Regions from separate parts of the Homo sapiens genome. Here regions 2, 3 and 4 are each linked to region 1. Evidence: fine-mapped expression QTL. A gene starts in region 1. Each other region holds a variant in brackets. All regions are shown on one strand. Distances are between the middles of the regions.

Region 1 (5,154 bases):
AACAATTGACAAGCCCATTAGAGAAAACATTTTACATAATTTTACATCACTGACTTAGAGCCCACACATACATGACAAAGATAGCTAAAAACATATGAAAAAATATATCTTTGGAAATAAACACAGCATTCCTCTGGCTATGAAACTAAAAAAGTTTGAGACACTTTTTAAACTTGTAGCAGAAGATGCAACAGACTGTCAGCTTCATTTAGCACTGCCTGCACTAATTGTTGTTCACTCGATTCTTTACGAGATATTAGCTTCAGAATATGGACCCTAAAGAATCCACATCTTTGGAATGTTCCATCATAGCTTTGATGATCAAGTCTGAGTCTCCAAAAGCCACTCTCATTTTATAGAAATCTTTCAACTGTTATGCATCATCAGACATGACAACAGGTGTCACAAGAGATATATGCCTTGCCTCCAGCAAATCAATTAGAAGAAAACAAAAATTTCTTTAAAATACAAAGAAAATATAGAGCAAGAGAACAGAATATAAGTCTTCCACTCATATCCTCCAACAGCAACAATAATCTAGCAACCATCCAGGGATGAAAGTTTCTTCTTAGCAGTTTTGTGATTTGGAGGGGACAACAGAGTAGAGAATGCCCACTGCCCCAACCAGAGCCTGGGCATTTGAGATTCTGAAGATTTAAAAAGGGGCTCTGCAGAAAGCTGTGGCAAGCAAAGGATAGGCTAGAGAGAGACAGGACTAATAAATGTGTCGACTTCAGATACATTCTTGTGAAGGACAGCAAAGAATAGGTGGCCTTTTCACCTCCTAGAGAGATAAAACATCGGAGGCCAAGGTAGAATTGGGTGTGTCCTGCCAATCTTTAAATGAATAAGGCTATAGGAGTAGTATTGCTTCCTGAAGTAGTCACAATCTTTTCTTTGCATTATTTTAATTCTATTTATGTAGCATTAAAAACTGAAAAGAAGTTCTATGTAAAATGAGAGCAGAGAAAATCATGTTGTCTGAATTGCAGCCCTAGAAAATTTCATGAACCTATGACTTGTTTTTAATTTTTATCTACAAGTCACATTTGCTCATTTTTAACTACATGCCACATTTTATATGTACCTATGTATACATGTATTTATGTGTACATACCCTTTAATCCTCTAATCCTTGTTAAAAAAAAAATAGCCAGACAGGAATTAATAGTGTAGTTATCCCTATTTTATTAATGAGTAAATCAACGATTGGAAAGGTTAAGTGATTTGCCCAAGGCCACAGAGCTATAGAAGTGATTTGGAATCTCTCATACTCACACTTCAGAGATGAAGATTACTGTCTTCAAAAGGCATGAAGGGTAATTCCTCAAAATTAGACATATACCAGTTTACACTAAGTATCACTTGCTTAATGAAGGAGTTAACTAGACAAAATGAGTGAGATGTTATAATTCTAAGTGACATCAAAATATAGTTGATAGGAAAACTTTTTTTGAAATTCTACTATATTTCATGACTGGGAGTTAGGTGCAGTTTATTTTGTCTAACTGCCAACATAATTTTACCTGGTACTAATTTTACCTGGTTCCTGGTACTAATAGATCAATTTGTGGAATTTTGATCTTTTCTGTGACCACACACTGTACTCAGAAACAAGTAAATATAAGCTTGAGAAATACAGGCCTTTGACCCCAAAATTCCAAGACAGGACATGAAAAGAGAGAGCAGAGAAAAGTCATCCTCCTTATTGGGCTATCTCAATTAAGTAGCTAAGTTTCTACAGTATTTGGAGGACTACTATGAGCTACCCACAAAAGAACTAGGAATAAGGAAAACAAGGTAAACTTTCAAATAACACATAATAAAATGGAGTACAGAACTGCAAAGTCACCTGGGAGAAACTACTTGACTCCCAGGCCAAGGGTCCAAGAGTATAACCAGCAGCTTGTGTTTACCATAATCAAAGGAAAAGTAGAAACTGGGTGGCCATGGGAGACTGGCCTACAGTCCCATCCATCACAGAGGGTTGGCGTGTGCTCACCCATTCAAGGACCAATAAATGAGTATCTCTTTAAGAGCAGCTCCTCCCATTTTTCAACAATCTTCCTAATATGTAGGCTCACTAGAACATTTTCTCTTTCAAACTGCCCAGACGGTTGGACAGGACGTAGACACACAGAAGAAAAGAAGACAAAGAACGGGTAGGAAAATTAAAAAGGTAGGAGGCTGAGGCGGGTGGATCACCTGAGGTCAGGAGCTTGAGACCAGCCTGACCAACATGGTGAAACCAAATCTCTACCAAAGATACAAAAATTAGCCAGGCGTAGTGGTGCATGCCTGTAATCCCAGCTACTTGGGAGGCTGAGGCAGGAGAATCACTTGAATCTGGGAGGCAGAGGTTGCAGTGAGCCGAGATCACACCATTGTACTCCAACCTGGATAAAAGCGAAACTCCGTCTCAAAAAAAAAAAGAAAAGAAAAAGAATAAAAGGTGATATAGTAAAGGGTTGAGGGTGGGATGGGTAAATGAAGAAGGAGCATGCTGTAGTTTTATACCAAATATGGCTAGAATGAGAATGATATAATTCAGGCAGTTTGTTTGTTTCTGGGAATCACGGATCATGATGTTTAATCATCCAAGTCTATTTCCCTGCATAGCTATGTGATTTTGTCTAAAAAGAAAAAAAAAAGTAGTGAAAGAAGTAGTGGTAGAGCCTAAAGACAGTGTCAGGAACAGAAAAAAGTTAGGAAACGTAATTTTCTTAGAGGGGAATGGACGCTGAAGGTAGTGGGAAAAAATTGTTTTTAGGTAAGAACATGACTTCTTTCCCCAACACCCCCCGGAGAGAAGGTCTCACTCTGTCACCTAGGCTACAGTGCAGTGCTGTAACCATAGCTCACTGCAGCCTCAAACTCCTGGGCTCAAGCGATACCCCAGCTCAACAGGACTATATAATCCCAGAGTAGCTGGGACTATAGGTATGCACCATTTACTTGTCTTTTTAATTGAGAAGGTGAAGTACATTATTGATGGGGAGAAGGGGTGACTACCTGGCACACTGAAATACAGACATCTTCAGACCTTGTTCCTCATTATCCGTATCTAAGTAAAAAGAAGATACAGATTGCGTGTGTGTGTGTGTGTGTGTATGACTGTGTGTGTGTATACATATACATATGTGTTTCTTCATTCCCATATACAGGCATATGTATGTGGGTGGGTGGGTGGATGTGTCTACAGGTGTTTTAGTTGCGAATCTTTATTTCTTCTGCTTACTCTTTTTGGTAGACAGTAAATGACAAAGTCCAAAAGCAAAAAAGATAAATATGTATGCTGGGTCATCAGTCTCTTAATTTTGGAGAGCTGATGACTAAAAACAAAGTGCTTATTTTTTTTTCAGAAGAAAACTTTCTCTTTAGAAATTAGAGAGAAATGAAAATGTAGTTAGATCACTAAAAGGAATTTGTTTTCTAGAGACAAGGTCTTACTCTGTCACCCAGGCTGGAGTGCAGTGGTACAATCACGGCTCACTGCAGCCTGGAACTCCTGAACTCAAGTGATCCTACCGCCTCAGCCTCCTGAGTAGCTGGGAGTACAGGCATGTGCCACCACACCCAGCTGATTTTGTTTGTTTTTTGTTTTGTTTTGTGGAGACAGGGTCTCACTCTGTTGTCCAGGCTGCTTTCAAACTCCTGGGCTCAAGTGATCCTCCCACCTCAGCCTCCCAAAGTGCTGGGATTACAGGCGTGAGCTACCATACTCAGCCAGTGTTTATTAAAAAGTAAAGTTTTTATTAAGCCAAAGAGCGAAATCAAAATAAATAGATAAATAAGTAAATACATTTTCAGCAATGTTGTTACTGGAAATGTTCTCTGGGCCTTTGCACAGGTTACCATGGGGAAGAAAGTGGCCATCATTGGAGCTGGTGTGAGTGGCTTGGCCTCCATCAGGAGCTGTCTGGAAGAGGGGCTGGAGCCCACCTGCTTTGAGAAGAGCAATGACATTGGGGGCCTGTGGAAATTTTCAGTGAGTAGCATGTTGTTGTAATAGACAGGAAAATAGGTTGGGAAGTGTATAAGAGCACACTGTGTGCACACAGGTTTCCAAACCTGCTACCATGGCAGTTATCATATCTGTTAGAATTGGAATCCACTAAGTACAGTGTCAAGAGCAGGTTGGAAAGTAACCTCCTTGCAAGTCAGAAGTAAATTAGACAATGGGCTTTGAAATTCTCCATTACAGTTCTCCCTTGATAGATCATTAATAAGAGCCACTTGGACATAAAATTAGTGGTAAATATTAGTTAGGTTTATGTAGTTATAATTATTTACTCATTTAAAACACAATAACTTTTCACATCTTTTTTTTTTTTTACAGATTTAGGGGGTACAAGTGCAGTTTTATTACATGGATATAATGTATAGCAGTTAAGTCTGGGCTTTTGTGTAGCCATGACCCAAATAATGTACATTGCACCCATTAAGTAATTTCTCATACCTCAACCGCCTCCCACTCTCCTACCCTTCCAAGTCTCCAATGTCTATTATTCCCACATTCTATGTCAATGTGTATACATTATGTAGCTCCCAATCGTAAGTGAGAGAATATGTGGTATTTCACTTTCTGTTTCTGAGTTATTTCACTTAAGATAATGGCCTCCAGTCCCATCCATGTTGCTGCAGAAGACATAATTTCATTCTGTATTCTCGCTGGGTAGTATTCCATGGTGTGTGCATATATACATACATATATATGTATATGCGTCTGTGTGTATATATACATATATGTATGTATATACCACATTTTCTTTATCCAATCATCCTTATTGGACAACAAGGTTGATTCCATTTCTTTGCTATTGTGAATGGTGCTGCGATAAACATATGGGTGCAGGAATTTTTTTTATATAATGACTTCTTTTCCTTTGGATAGATATCTACTAGGGGCATTGTTGGGTCAAATGGTAGTTCTATTTTTAATTCTTTGTGAAATCTCCATACTGTTTTCTATAGTTTATATTCCAACCAACAGTGTTTCCTTTTCTCCACATACTCACTAATATCTTTTTTTTTTTTTTTTTTTTTTTTTGAGTGGGAGTCTCACTCTGTCTCCCAGGCTGGAGGGCAGTGGCGCCATCTCAGTTCACTGCAGCCTCCACCTCCTGGGTTCAAACGATTCTCCTACCTCAGCCT
Region 2 (5,154 bases), 31 kb after region 1:
CACATAAACTACTACATTTACCTCTCAGTTTTTCCCACCACCAACATTCCCATATAGATTCCAAACATGTTCTTTCCTCAATCTTACTCGTCCTGGTAATGAGACCTCTAAATACCCCATTTCTCAAGCCACAAAACTAGGCATAATCCTCAATTCCTTTAGCTGCCTCCTGTATTCATTAGCCAGGGATGCCATAAGAAAGTACCACAGACTGGGTGGCTTAAACAATAAAAATTTATTTTCTCATAATTCCTGAGTCTAGAAATCCAAGATCAGGGTGTCAACAATGTTGGTTTCTTCTGAAGCCTCTCTCGTTGGTTTGTAGATAACTTCTTCTGTGTCTTCACACAGTCTTCTTCTGTACATGCCTGTGACCGAATCTCCTCTTCTCATGAAGAAACCTATTATATTGGATTAGGGACAACCCTATGACCTCATTTTAACTTAATAGCCTTTTTAAGAATGCTGTCTTCAAATATAGTAACATTCTGAAGTACTAGGGGTTAGAACTTCAATATATAAATTTGAGAGTGACACAAGTCCATCCATAACACCTCACCATTCCCCTACCTACAGCATCAGCAAATGTTCTCACTTCTGTCTACCTCCACAGCCTCCACTCAGGTCAAAGCCACCATTAACTCTTACCCATTATTCTAAGAGCCTCCTTCTTGATTCCATTCTTGCATCTTAACATTCCATTTTGTATGCAGCAGCAAGAGTAAACTTTTTCAAACGCAAATAGGATCTTGTCACCCTTCTTGCTGTGTCATGTGAGGACATGCTTCCAATTCCTTGCATGCTGCTGGCTAATCTTAAGACATAGGAGGGAAGCACCCATAATCCAGAAACTCAGCTCTCTATTGACAGTTCTCTTGGGTTAAGATAATAGTATTTAACAAAAGAAGTTCTGTCCACCCTCTTATAATTCTGAGATGGTACCTACACTGCTCAAGCCTTTTCCTACAGACATTTATACCTGCTGTATTTAAAACTTCTTTTCATAGGCTTGGTTACCAGATTTAAGTATGAAGAAAGCCCTGAAAATAGAAAGCTTTCTAAGTTGGAAACATAATTGCCCATCTCTGATTGCCAAAAGGATTAAGTTGTAATATTAGTCTCCACATGGAAATGTATAGCCTCTTGTTTGTTGTGTAACTGTGTAGTTATCCAACAAGTAGAAATTTCAATTCTTTCTGTTAAGTTCATGCCACAGGTTTGTAGAAAGGCACTTCCTGATGTTGGGAAAAACTATGGAGGCAATGAGATTTCTGTGAAGTTACCGGCTTTCCCTTTCTGCTTTTGTGCCCCTTAGAATATTTTCATGTCACTCAAATAGCCACTGCCTTCACATTTCTTCTGCTTTCACACTAATCTCATTGAAGGATCTGTAGTTTGCTCCCACTAATAATGTTTTCCCATTAAGAAAACAGCTGAAAATGTCACCTTTCTTGAAGGGAGTACATTTCAACATCTCATATAAGTGATTACTACTTTAATTATTGATGTATGAGAATCTGGTACCTCAACTGTAGGCCAGTGTGAAAAGGAACAAAGTCCAAAATCATGCATATCACAGGCTTATGCAACTTACCTGACCACGATAGAAAGGTGGAAAGTGGTCAAAATTCCGGTGTCCAACTTGATTCAATTTATAGCTGGCATCCAAGAGGACAAGATAGTGAGTTCCTTGGTTTCTCGGTCATAGCTACAATGAGGACAAGATGAGTTCCTCAATTGTAACAAGAGTCAAAATCTTACAAATGGTTCCAGAAGACCAATGTCATTCTAGATAGCCCATACATTGGTGGAATAAGACTCCAGCCAGAAGTAAATGACATGAAGAAAAGATTTAGCTCCTAGTTACAGGTAAGGGATACTCCTAAGAACCAGACAGACTACCAGAGTCCCAATCAAGTGGCCTGGAGATCAGAATAAGGCTCCAATAAGTCAAGTCATAGAGCATGGGTATATTCTCTAAGAAAGGTCCTCCAAGGAGCATATGACAACATACGACTAAACATGCAAGGAATTGATCAGGAGAATACCTGTGAAAGATAATAGGAAAGGAGCTGGAAAAGACAGGGAGAGCTGTCAGACAGGGATGCAAGTATGACCCCAAGCGAAGAAGTGAGGGGAGGAGAGTTGGGTGAAAACATTCCAGACTGCCAAGCAGTCTAGGAATGGTTTGGCAAAGCTGCAGGGGAATGCCTGAACAAAGTTGGGCATCAGAAGAGCCCTGTGTCTATAAGGCAGAGGCCTGCCTAGGTATCTCTGCCATACTCAGTCATTGGCTGGGAATAGCCTGAACAAGTACAGCCTCAGTTCAAAGACAGCATTCAATGAGCAGCTTGGGTCCATTGGTCAATTATGCTCCCTGTAGTTTGGGTCCATTGGTCAATTATGCTCCCTGTAGTTGGAGATCTGCAACTTCTCATGACCACCAGAAGGAGCCAGCCCAGTAGGATTTACCAAAGGATTGGTGAGGGAACAGGTGCAGAGTTTATACCAGATACCAATATTACCAAAGGAAAACTAATTCCAGGCCCTGCAGCTGACAATTGTTCACCTTTCGCCTT[A/G]GTTTGGATTGGCTTAGTGATCAGGAACAGCAAACTCAGCAGACTGAAATTTCTCTGTGTTTAGGTGAAAATGTGCTTCTGTGTGAAGGCACAACTGGCAATTATTAAATCTCCTCTCCCAAGCTTGAGTAAATTAAAGAGGGGCTCTGAGCTATGAATTTCAGCTCAGAGCCTTCAAAGATAAATGTTAAACTTTTGAAAATTTTCCAGCAAGATAATGGCAAATGGTTATCTAAATTTCACTGTGTAATTTGCATCCTGTCAGATAACACAACTCCTGTCAGTGTTTTATGTTGTTCCCCCAGCCTGTTTTCAAGCAGTTTTCTTCCTGTGGAACATAAAACAGACAAATAATAGTGGGGGTCACATGATCTGCTTATTTTTAGACTGCTGCTCTACTGCAAATAGCTTTCCAGTGCCACTGTGTCTCAGCCCATATGTCCTGCTATAAAGGAATATCTGAGGCTGGATAATTTATAAAGAAAAAAGGTTTCTTTGGCTCATGGTTCTGCAGGCTGTACAAAAGCATTGCACTAGTATCTGCTTCTGATGAGGGCCTCAGGCTGCTTCCACTCATGATGGAAGGGAAAGGGGAACTGATGTGTGCAGAAATTACATGGTAAGGCAGGAAGCAGTAGAGAGAGGAGGAGGCATCAGACTCTTTTTAACAACCAATTCTCACAGAACTAAGAGTGAGAACTCACTCCTGTGAGGATGACACCAAGCAGTTCATGAGAGGTCCACCCTCAAGATCCAAATACCTCCCACCAGGACCCACCTCCAACATTGGGATCAAATGTCAACCTGAGACTTGATAGGGCCAAGCAAAGTATATCCAAATCACAGCACAGTTTTTCAGCTCCAGAATAATTATCATGTTTTCCAGGGCAAAAGTTTCCATAAAAATGATAATAGTAAAGGGCAAACAGAATTCATGCTTTCTACCAACAGTTTTTGTACTAGTTATGTACTAGGGTATATTCTAGGACCTGGAGATTTAACAGGAAATTATATTAAAATAATCCCACTTTTAAGAAAGTCACATTCTATCAGGGGAAAACAGTCTATTTAAAAATACACGGGCCAAACACAGTGGCTCACGCCTATAATCCCAGCACTTTGGGAGGCCGAGGCAGGTGGATGACGAGGTCAAGAGATCAAGACCATCCTGGCCAACATGGTGAAACCTTGCCTCTACTAAAAATACAAAAAATAGCCAGATGTGGTGGCGGGCACCTGTAGTCCCAGCTATTCAGTTGGCTGAGGCAGGAGAATTGCTTGAACACGGGAGGCAGAGGTTGCAGTGAGCTGAGATCGTGCCACTGCACTCCAGCCTGGTGACAGAGCAAGACTCCGTCTCAAAAAAAAATTAAAATTAAAATTAATAGAGAACATATCATGACATAGAATAATAGAAAACAAATGGCCTTAAAAGTTGTCTAGTCCAGTCCTCTAGTTGCAAACCAAAGCAACCCAGGAAACATGTGAGGCCAGTGGTTACCAACTCCCTTTGAGTCCCAGGTGTACTTTTTCTTAAGCTACTGAAACTATATTGCTTACAGTGTATCAGCCCCAAACCTGATGGATTTCTAGTCAATTTATCAATATTCTGAAGTTCTATATTTCCCTAATCTCTAGTGCAGAAATCCAGCTGCAATTCCTTCTATTTTATCCCAGTAAGATCTCATTCTAAATCAGCAGAATGCTCCTTTTTGGCATCTTCAATGCTTGTTCCCACCCCACTGTGCCTTCGACCAATTCATTTCATCATTTCTTCTCTCTCTCTCTCATTTTTATGCTACCCATACCCAGACTCAATATTTCAGCCTCATTCTCTCTTCCCCTGGCTTGAATCCCCACTTGCAATCTAAGGATAGGTTCTATAAAGTCTACTTTCTCTATCTCTTTTGCCTCTTTCCATCTTATAATTCCCACTCTGGCAAATTAGATCTGGCTATCATTATTTTTTTTAATTTTGATATAGTATTATTTGTCTATTTTGCTTTTGCTGCCTGGTTTGTTTTTTAATTTTTTGTTCATGTTTTGTTTCGGTTTTTTTAGAGGCAGGTTTTTGTTATGTTGTCCAGGCTGGCCTGGAACTCCTGGGCTCAAGCAGTCCTCCCATCTGAGCCTCCCGAGTACATGGAACATACCACCCCACTCCCAGCTATCATAATTTCTTAGTCTGTTGGAATAGGCCTCTAACTGGCCAGCTAGACTTTAGTTTCCCTGTCATAGTTTATCCTGTATACTACTGCCAGAATCATCTTCCTGAAGTGAGCCTCTAAAACACATTACACGTGCATACAATTCTTTACTGGTTCTTCTTTCTCCCCATTTAAATCTCATACAAGGGGCCTCCCAATATGACTAAAGCTACTTTTCCAGTCTTATTTGTAACTATGTTCCAGACAAACTATACTATTTAGAGTTTTCTCCCTGAATAAACCCACCTTCATGTATATATTTATGGTTATACATGAAATATATATATAACCATAGAAAAATGCCTGAAATCCAGGCGTTTTTTAAACCCGTCTTAAATCTAAATTCTTTCCTTTGGGGTCAGACTTTG
Region 3 (5,154 bases), 50 kb after region 1:
TGTTGAATAGCCTATCAGCTCCAAATCCAGAGGGAAAAATTATGGTCTTTGCCATTTGGGCTCATTGTAGAAATAATATAATTAGGAAATAGTCCTTGTAAACACATTTTTTTTTTTAATTTCAAAGCCAAGTTTGGAGAAACTTCTAGTTCTTCTGTCCTGGATTTCCCAGCCATTGTAATCAGTTGTCGATGATACATATTTGGCTTGAAAACATATTCACATCATTCATATTGTAACTACTTCCTGTCCTGGTCTCAGTTACTGCTCTGCCTGCGCCAATAGCCTCCTCCAATAGAGTATATCAGTGCTAACTTAGAACACATTTTTATTCTTCTCCAAGCTTTTTTTAAAAAAATTTGTGGTTTTGTAACCCTGAAAGCACTCCATGAGATATAAGGTCATTAATTTTTATTTCCCAGTAGGGGGTAATCAAGAGTTAATATTTTTCAAGAATTTAATTTTCCCTATTTACATTTGCTCAGGGAAATGTGGACAGCTTAGAGTAAATCATAAAATGGCTTTCTACCATCTCCCTAGTAACAATTAAATGATGCTTGAGCATCTATTCTGGTAGTTTGTGCTAAGTACTGGGATGACAAATATGGAATATAATCACTCCTTGTAAATGGTTCCATTTCATTTGATTAAGCAAGCCATAATATAATTCCGTAATCCTTTGATAGCAAATGGGCAAAAACTCATTTGATAGCCGAACCTCTTCTGAAATCGTAAGGTTAAATACCGTGAATTGGATCAACATGAAGCTAAGTCTCACCTTCTGTTGCACGGCAGAAATTTTATTGCATTTGACAGATTGCTGCCCCAGATCTCACTAGGAGTATTATGGAGCAAAATCCAAAAATGTACACATTCCAAAATATATCTGGCCCTAAGACTTTTAAAATAAGAGATTATATAACTACAACAACAAGATAGACCTTGTCACCATCAATTCAATGGACGAGTGCCTCGAGCGTTTAGAAGAGGGTGGACTACGGAAATCTTAGTAGGTCAAAGAAAACCTCCCACAGGGATGACACTTAGCCTTGAAGGATAACCCCAGACAAGCAAAATAGAGGACCACCTGTGACACAACTCCTAGAGAGTGCATTTCCCAATAAAGTCTGCGAATGGCACTCCATAGGCCTATGCAGTCATTGGCAGTGTGCCAGCACCAGGTTAAGAGAGACCAACAATCCATGAAAGGCACAGAAAAGGCAATGAACATGGTGTGTGCAGAGAGGGATCCATGAGTTATCCAATATAGCCAGATCAGAAAGTTTACTTAAGGAAGCAATAATATGATACAAAGATCAGTAAGATTCAAAGTTGGATTCTGAGTTATCCACAAGAGGAAATTCTTCTTTTCCATAAGGTCATGTCTATAAGCAAAATTCTACTCAAAGTCCTGGTGAGGATATGGACCCATACAAATACTCAAAACTTTAGCCTCCTCCACATACCCCAGCCCTTCCTTCTTTTCTTAGAAAAGTTGCTTGGCACAATATATAATCAGAGAGGGATTTTTTTTATGTGTTACATAAGACTTTATCTTGTAAGCCTTTTTTAGAAGGTGTTCTAGCAGACAGAAACGTGGTAATTCTGAACTTTTCACTATTTGCTTTTTCTGAGAAATGAAAACCAAATGGGATTTAAATACTAGCAGGCTGAATGTGTGTTTTAAGTTTCATCCACTCCTAAATAGGGCCTCGTGTCCTCAAAAGATTTCATTACTGCTGTAATAAGAAGTTGCTCAACAGCCAGGTGCGGTGGCTCATGCCTATAATCCCAGCACTTTGGGAGGCCAAAGCGGGTGGATCACGAGAGGTCAGGAGTTCAAGATCAGCCTGGCCAACACAGAAAAACCCCATCTCTACTAAAAACACAAAAATTAGCCAGGTGTGGTGGTGGGTGCCTGTAATCCCAGCTACTCAGGAGGCTGAGGCAGGAGAATCTCTTGAACCCAGGAGGCAGAGGTTGCAGTGACCTCAGATTATGCCACTGCACTCCAGCCTGGGCAATAGAGAAAGACTCCATTAAAAAAAAAAAAAATGCTTACCAATAGGTTAGTAGCATTTTGATTGCAAAAGCTGAAGCCAGGACTATTTGAACTTTTTCCCACTCATTTATTCCTTTGTTCATTCAATGAATACATACTGTGTACTTTATGTGTAGGGTACTATATTAAGCATAAGCTGCAGATAAGAGGCCAGCCAGCACTTTAAAAGCCGTGAGAAAACAAGTATCAGAATAACTATAAGTGACTATATAATTAGGGCAATAAGGATAATGGGACCTTAGTAAAACTAAAGATGATTTGGCAGTAGCTGAGAGGGAAGGTAAAGAAAGCCATGACAAAGTTGAAGGCAACTTTTGAGCATATTTCAAGGGCATATTTAGACAAGGAGATATGGGACTCATAAGCAGAGCTGGAATAGGAAAGAAGATCAAGGTAAACTGCTTAGATGCATGTACAACATTCTGAAATTAACCTCTGACTTTGCCCTCAAGTTACTTATGTTCTCGTGGGAAAGATGAGAGATGAACACGGTTATCATCCAAGACAGATGGTGCCCACAGCTGCTTAGATCTCTGGTTCCAGGGTAAAGCTCCCTCAGCTAGAGGCAGAGTCAAAGTTGAATTTCCTCCTTACTGGCTCAAACCACACCTCATATTGAAATAATAAAAATGCATGCTCCCTGGAGCAACTGACTTGTTATCTAATACATTTGCTTTTTTGTGTTTGTTTGGAGAACAGTCTTTTCGGAAAAATTCCAAGGAGCTGTAGTGTACATACTCTTCTCTCCTGGTGTTATAATTGGCTGAGGTCAAGGGGCAAAAAAGCAGAGATTCATTCAAGATGGAAATATTCCAAGGCCTTAGCATCTGTTTCCCAGAACAGAGTCTTACATTCTTTAACCAGGCTCCATCCCACAGTTCAGCCCTGCCTCCTTTCAACAGGCAGCTGAAAAAACCTCCTTCCCACCTCT[CCTT/C]CTTCTCACAACCATCAGTAGAAGGCGCTAGCTGTGGGTGAAAGGGAAGCACTCAGCCTGCCAAACTGCTGGACATGAGCCTTCACCCTTTTTCTGACCTCCACAAAAATTTTAAAAAGTTTAAATTCCTGTGCTTCCACGCTTATGAGAAATACAGCAACCATGAATAGAGGAAGATTATGTTTTCAACTTGAGAAAAAATACTGAGGCTTTGGGCAGCCCCCCACTTCCCCACGGGGACACAATCCTCTCAACCCTTTCCAGCACTTTTTGTTTCCCTCTTCCAGAGGTCATCTGGTGTGAGAGGGAGAGACACATCTTGAATCCAGCAGCAACGTGACATTCCATCTCTTTCCCCCCATTGCACAAGAGTCCTTCCGGACCTCGGGAAGCAGAAGCTGCCAGCTCTGAAATGTATTTTCAAGGCAGCACATTGTGTGCACTTTTACCCTACCCTCACAACTGAGAGGAAATGTTTATTTTCAATTTAGCTTTTGACTGCTTCTAAAAAATAAGCCACTTTTCAATTACACAGAGGCTTTAAAATGAAGTGCCAAGATTTAACACATGTTCTAAGGGCTCTGGTTTCCTGTGTTTCTTTGGTGAGGAGTGAAGTCCAGCAACTGGTGAGCCAAAGAATAGGATTCATTTACAACAGAGCAGTGGTTCTCAAAGTGTGGTTCCTAAACCAGCCACATCAGCATCACCAGGAACTTGATAGAAATGCAAACCACCCCAGACTCCACCCCAGACAGATTGAATCCGAAATTCTAAGAATAGGGCCCAAGAATCTACGGTCTAGGGAGCTTCCAGGCGATTCTCATTACGCCAAAGCTGGGAAACCACTGCAATATTGGGTTGTTGCCAGTGAAGAGTTTGCTAAACTCCAAAAGCAAATAAATAGGCTAGAAGTCAGAGCCTCTTCTAGACAGTTTTGTTTTTTGTTTTTTTTTTAACCTGAGTATAAGATCAGAACCAGTGGTGGCACAGGAGAAAGCAAAAACCACTAAGTGGCTATAAAGACAGAGCTAACACTGAGGGTAATTACAGTAAGAGGATTCACATGGAAAGAGCTCCAGTTCTGTGCCAGGTGCTACGCGAAGGGCTTTCCATTCCTTATCTTACTGAGAGCTTTTAATTTTTGTTTACGCTTTTAAACATGAAAAGGGTTTTAGTCAACCAAGAATTGAACCACTGTGTTCACTGAAGGGAACACAATTCTTGGCTTTCTCTTTAAGCTTTCTTATTCTCCCTAGGACCACACAGAAGAAGGCAGAGCCAGCATTTACCAGTCTGTATTCACAAACTCTTCCAAAGAAATGATGTGCTTTCCAGACTTCCCTTATCCGGATGATTACCCAAACTATATACACCACAGCAAGCTCCAGGAATATATAAAGACATATGCTCAAAAGAAGGATCTTTTAAGATACATACAGTTTGAGGTAGGGGTCTCATAACTTGTACTGTTGAAATTAAGATATGTGTGGGTTAGAGAAAAAGGAGGCAGCAAACTATTATAAAAATTAGAGCCAAATGTTTGGGCACCTCAGTAATCAAATGTTGGCTCTGATTATAAAGCATTCATGCATTGATTTTTTCTCTCCTAGACTTACTAGTTCACTAGTCTCTGAGAGCTTTCAGACTACCTTAGAAAATGGAGGCAGCTAGCCCATCATTGTCCACTTTCCACCCTCATGCTCTGATGTTTTGGAAATAATCCAAAATGCTTTAGTATATATTAGGAATTTTGTCAGTTCAATGCCAATGAGTTGTGGTTCAAAAAACCAGAGCATTTGGTAGGGTTTCTCCCATTACATTATGAAAAGGTTAACAACTTAAATGGGAAATATAGTCATTGCCCCCATCTTTACCCACTCAGTTCATTAGTTTTTTTATTAAAAAGGTGAGATTTCAGCATTGTTTCTGCGAGAATAATGTTTTACATTTATTTGGGACTCTTTATTGAGCATTTCTGTCTGTATGTTTGGAACTCTTAACCTCAATTAACTGCTGCTAAATGCAGAACACTTGCATATAGTGGGAAAAACAATCAGCAAAATTATGAACCATGGTGATATTTACATCATTATTTTACCTGGAGTAGCCCCAAATGTATAGTTAAAATAAAATTTTCCAATAGTCATTTTATTCCATT
Region 4 (5,154 bases), 23 kb after region 1:
TCTCAGGGAGGAGACTTTTAAGAAAACCTCTGAAGGAGTTGAGGGAATGAGCCATGAGGGTCTCAGGGGAAGGGTATTCCAGACTGAGGACACAGCCAGGGCATTTACGGGCAGGGCTGGCATGATCAACAAACAACAATGGGGCTTCTCTTCCTTGAGAAAAGAGAATGAGGGGAGAATGCCAGGAGATAAAACCAGAGACATAAAAATTGTTGGATGGCGTGGGCCTTGTAGATCATTGTAAGGACTCTGGCTTTTACTCTGAAAGCAATGGGAAACTACAGCAGGCATCTGAGCAAATGAATTACAAGACCTAAATTAGCATTGCAGAGATTGATCGGCTGCTGTGGTCATCATTCAATGTAAGGGTAGGGCAAGGAAGGAAGTGAAAGGACCAGTTAAAAAGCTACTCTCAAAAACCTGAATCAGAGGGGATGTTGGTCTGGACCAAAATTGTTAGCAGTGAGTGGTCAGAATTGGGCAGATTTCTGGATAGCTTGAAGGTCGACCCAAATAGGATTTTCTGTGGACTGGATAGAGGATGAGAGAGCAAGGAGGGAGTAAGAATGTCTTCAAGATATTTGAAAAAGGATGACATTGACGTTTACTAAAATGTGAAAAACTGCAGGAGGAACAGAAGTTCAGTTTTAGACATATTAAAGTTGGAATGCCTATTAGACATTCTGGTAGAAGAATGTTGAGCCAGCAGTGGGAAACACAAGACAGGAGGGAGGCTCAAACCAGAAGTTAAAACTCTGGAGTCATGAGAAAATTTTTCCTGAAGAAATGGAACTAGATGACATCTCTTGAAGAATGCATGTAAATGGAGGAGACTAAAGGTCTGGGGACTGAGTCCTGAGGTATGCCATTGTCAGAAGTCAGGAAGAGGAGAAGACATCTGTGGGAGACAGAAAAAGAATAGCCAGCAAAGTAGGAAAGGAACTGAGAGAGAGTGATGACCTGGAAACAAAATGAATACAGTGTTTCAAGAAAGAGGAAACCATCAATTATGTTAAATGCTAAGTTGAGTAAAAGGGAAAGTGAGGGTGGACCACTGGATCTGGGAGCCTGATTCTGATGGCCTTGACAAGAGCAGTTTCAGCGTGGTGATGGAGTTTGTTCTCCAGTGGAATCTGCCTGTAGCACTCTCTCACAGCTCCCACAGCCATACAAGAACAACACTCTTTCCTTCAACTGTATTCACATTCATCCCTGGGTTCAGATTTCTCTGCTCCCACTACAGATATTATTGAATAAAAAGTAGTCCAAAGCTCTCTCTTTCCAGACTTGCAGTTGCCAAAGCCTCAAACTGGCACCCTCCCTCTGGCCTTATTTAAATTCCTGGGTGCTCCCTCCTTCACCTGATTGGTGCCTCTGTCTGCATGGGGCTCATACTTCATCCCTCAAGAGCCCAGCTGCAGCTCTCACACCTTTGACTTTCCTCCTCCTATTTGGTCTTCTCCACAGTATGATGACCATCTTGGAGTATACTGAATTAAGAATAACAGTTAACATTTTCGAGCTCCATGCATATGCTAGAGACTGTGCAAAACTCTTTATATCATTTAGGGAACTTCTGAGGTAGTACAAACATTACTGACATTCCAGATGAGAAATATGAGACACCAAGAATTTAAAAAACATAATCTCATCAAGGTTCCCACTGAATAAGTAGCAACTTTAAAAATGTAAACACCGAGGTACCCTCACTTCAGAGTTTTTCCTGAAACAGGCTTTAACAGGGAACTGGGCATAAGCCTTTATTCCGGGATTTGGAAAGAGCTCCATGGAAGAGAAGGATCACAGAAAATAGAGATGGGGCCAGCAAATAACAACTTCTCTTACTTCCCAATGTTGCCTCCCATCAATTTTGTTCTTCAGCCATATTGGAGATACTCTATGCCTCAGAAAAAAAAAATCTTGGGTCATTTTTTCCTTCCTTATCAATTTATATATGGACCAATAAAACAAGAGGGAAATATTACACTTCCAATAATTGTCTCTGTTTTCCATACAGAGTCCTGAGGAAAGAGCCTGTATTTAACGATGAGCTCCCAGCAAGCATTCTGTGTGGCATTGTGTCCGTAAAGCCTAACGTGAAGGAATTCACAGAGACCTCGGCCATTTTTGAGGATGGGACCATATTTGAGGGCATTGACTGTGTAATCTTTGCAACAGGGTATAGTTTTGCCTACCCCTTCCTTGATGAGTCTATCATCAAAAGCAGAAACAATGAGATCATTTTATTTAAAGGAGTATTTCCTCCTCTACTTGAGAAGTCAACCATAGCAGTGATTGGCTTTGTCCAGTCCCTTGGGGCTGCCATTCCCACAGTTGACCTCCAGTCCCGCTGGGCAGCACAAGTAATAAAGGGTAAGTCAATAAAGAGGCTCATGGATTGCGAAGATGAATGCCAGTGACAATAACTTTGGATCTTTGTGAAAACAATAATCCTAGTTACAAGGTCCCCTTCAGTTTTGAAAATTTATAATTCTATATTCTTTAGTGCTATATTTTGTTAGCAATTTAAAGTATACCAGTTTGGATTATTGTATGAAATACTACAAGATATTATTAGAGGAGGCATTTTGTGACTACAACTTCTTACAGCTGATAATTACCCAAGATCATTTATTAGACTTGAGACCACCAAAGCTCACATCCACTTAAGACTAAGTGAATGACAACTTTATAAAATTATGATTGCAAAACTCAGTAGAATTACATTGCTTGAAAAGTTCATAAGAAAATATGTTTACGAGCCAACATCCAGCCAACTTCAAATATCCACAGTCATGGAAAATATGATTGCTGGAAGGCAATGGCTTTTCTACTATTATTTTCTTCCCTGACAAAAAAAGGACAAACAGTGGATCAACAGAGGCAGAAAGTGCTAAGAACAAACAGTGGATCAATAGAGGCAGAAAGTGCTCAGTGTAGTAGATGATCAGTCTGTAATACATAAGAATACTGAGTTCTTATATTTTACAAAGGAAACAACAAACTTGATTGGGGTCAGGCAAGAAAGGCA[G/A]GCAGCATCCCCCAGCAGCAGGCTGGAATACAGTTGTGGGGAGATGCAGATCACACGACCAGGTAGCCAGGAAGGTAATGGCATGAAATTTCACTCAGGATTCCACTTAGGGTTCAGACCCAGAGAGGCTGGCATTAAAGGAAGGGTGCTACCCTTACTCTCTATGAGGACAAGAGTTGTAACTTGGGCTCTGAAGAAAGGAAACAAGGCAATTTATGGGGAAAATTGATGTACACGGCACAGGCTCTCTTAAGGGAAATGAGACACAAGGCAAACAACCTAGATTTGGAAAACCAGAGTACCAAGACAAGAGGGGCTAGTTACAAGCAACCCAATGGCAGTAGTCGGCAGGCTAAAAAACAGTCTCTTTCTTTTCAATCTCTTCCTCTGAAAAGCATGACAAGTTCCAAGGCCTGGAACCATACCATATCTACAAAAGCTGTTCAAGTGACCCTCCCTATAAGAAGTGTAGAAATGGGAAATTAAGCAAGCCATTGTAGGTCTTGAGTAATCATATCTGGGCTAAGAGTTTTATTCTCTTTCAAGTTGATACCAAGATTACCAAAGAAATCATCCTAAATTTGAAGTATTTCTGGACACAAAAGGCTGTTTTGGTCTGGGTTTTAGAGAACTCTGCAAACTTATGTAAACCTGGATCCTGGGGCAGCCCCAAGTCAGATCTAGTCTCCTGGGTCTCCCTTATGTCCTTGGTGACTTGTGGACAGTCCATATCCTCAGTCATATTCAAGAACTACTGGCTTCCCATAGAAAAACTTAGCCCTTCACCAAATTCGATATCTTATCTTCTGGAAATTCCATTTTCTGGCAAAGCAGGATTAATTTCTATGAAGATTTTTCTTCATAAATCTTGGAAAAGTGATGCCAATTCACCTCTGTTTGGCTATAATTTAAAAGACAACATTCTTAAAATATGACTGAGATTAAAATATATCTATGAAACTGTTTTGAAACATCTTGTAACCAGTTTAAGAGCAAAGCTATTTAGGTAATGTTTTTTAATTATTATGACAAATATGAGTTCTGAGAAGACTAGAACTGAATTTGGTGTCTGTCTGAAAATGAACACCAATTAATGTAATTCATAACTCATTATTAAAAAGGGAAAATTACAGGCTGGTCCTATGCCAGACTCATTAATTACCATCGTGTCTTTCCTTCTTTATCAGGAACTTGTACTTTGCCTTCTATGGAAGACATGATGAATGATATTAATGAGAAAATGGAGAAAAAGCGCAAATGGTAAGAGTACCTATTGTAATAGGAGTGTAGGATTTCCATAGAAAAGTGAGAATTTATGAATGCTTGGAACTGTTTTAATCTTAAATTATCCTGAATGACATCATTGGAATGACAACTACAAGCTATATTCATCCATTCAACAAATATTAATTGAAGACCTACGTTGCTTCTGACATTGTATTAAGTTCTTTTTAGTACAAGGCACAGAGTAAATAATAGGATTGAGAATCTACATTACATAGACAGTTTTAGCCCTCCATGCCTCCTGTAATATATATCATAGAAAGGAGACCCAGAAAGGATTTGAAATCAGAGGAGTTTGGGAACACATGGATGTGGACTTCCATTCTCTAGCCCATAAATTCTCTAAGATGTAGAGGATATTTCAAAGGTATACCTCTAATGAAAATGACTCAGAAAAGTGAGAATGAATCTGGAGAACTGGGCTCCATTTCTAGTTGTCACTAATTAGCTCAGTGGCCATGAACTATTATAGAAGGGTCATTTGAGCAAGAGGCAATCTATCCATTTGTAAATAAGGATAAAAAATGTCTTTCTCAGCTGCATTGCAGTGTTGGGGTATTTCCAAATGAAACCATATGAAAGTTCTTTAAAAAAACCACAAAGTAGGATAAACAAATGACATTCTCCTTATACAAGAAATTGATGTTGTATGTCAGGGTAGTGTGGGAAATTTTTTTAGAAAGAGAGAGAGATTGATGTTAATTCTCACTGATATAAAGTTGCGAGCCATTTTCTCTGTTCTGTTTCTACACAGAGTTTGGGTATCCACAGTGGTGTTTTCTCTCCCATCTCCAGGTTTGGCAAAAGCGAGACCATACAGACAGATTACATTGTTTATA

Alleles and levels. Alleles are on the strand shown, and positions count from the first base shown. SD is a standard deviation of normalised expression in the study named. Not every link is listed here.
For the expression in prefrontal cortex of the gene that starts at base 2,103 in region 1, CCTT is the high allele of the variant in region 3 and C is the other (small effect, 0.29 SD a copy in BrainSeq).
For the expression in visceral fat of the gene that starts at base 2,103 in region 1, allele G in region 4 goes with a lower level than allele A (moderate effect, 0.60 SD a copy in GTEx).

The links. PIP is the estimated chance that this variant, and not a neighbour inherited with it, causes the effect.
Region 2: its variant is the best candidate, but not a certain one, in a credible set for the expression of FMO3 in nasal epithelium (TOPMed, PIP 0.52).
Region 3: its variant is the best candidate, but not a certain one, in a credible set for the expression of FMO3 in prefrontal cortex (BrainSeq, PIP 0.73).
Region 4: its variant is the best candidate, but not a certain one, in a credible set for the expression of FMO3 in visceral fat (GTEx, PIP 0.62).

Annotation. Positions count from the first base shown.
Region 1 is chr1:171,088,803-171,093,956 of GRCh38, forward strand. FMO3 (flavin containing dimethylaniline monoxygenase 3) reads left to right here and starts at 2,103. Exons shown (of 9, transcript NM_001002294.3): 1 at 2,103-2,179; 2 at 3,851-3,988. The coding sequence starts at 3,857.
Region 2 is chr1:171,120,156-171,125,309 of GRCh38, forward strand. It overlaps FMO1-AS1 (FMO1 antisense RNA 1), which reads right to left. Exons shown (of 5, transcript XR_922278.4): 4 at 1,595-1,708; 5 at 217-401. Among named protein-coding and RNA genes, the nearest start is that of MIR1295A, 21 kb to the left of the region's middle. The variant A/G (reference allele first, on the strand shown) is at 2,580.
Region 3 is chr1:171,138,919-171,144,072 of GRCh38, forward strand. The region is part of intron 3 of FMO1-AS1 (FMO1 antisense RNA 1); the gene reads right to left. It also overlaps the pseudogene FMO6P. Among named protein-coding and RNA genes, the nearest start is that of MIR1295A, 40 kb to the left of the region's middle. The variant CCTT/C (reference allele first, on the strand shown) is at 2,994.
Region 4 is chr1:171,111,990-171,117,143 of GRCh38, forward strand. FMO3 (flavin containing dimethylaniline monoxygenase 3) reads left to right here. Exons shown (of 9, transcript NM_001002294.3): 7 at 2,018-2,373; 8 at 4,219-4,291; 9 at 5,111-5,154. Among named protein-coding and RNA genes, the nearest start is that of MIR1295A, 13 kb to the left of the region's middle. The variant G/A (reference allele first, on the strand shown) is at 3,032.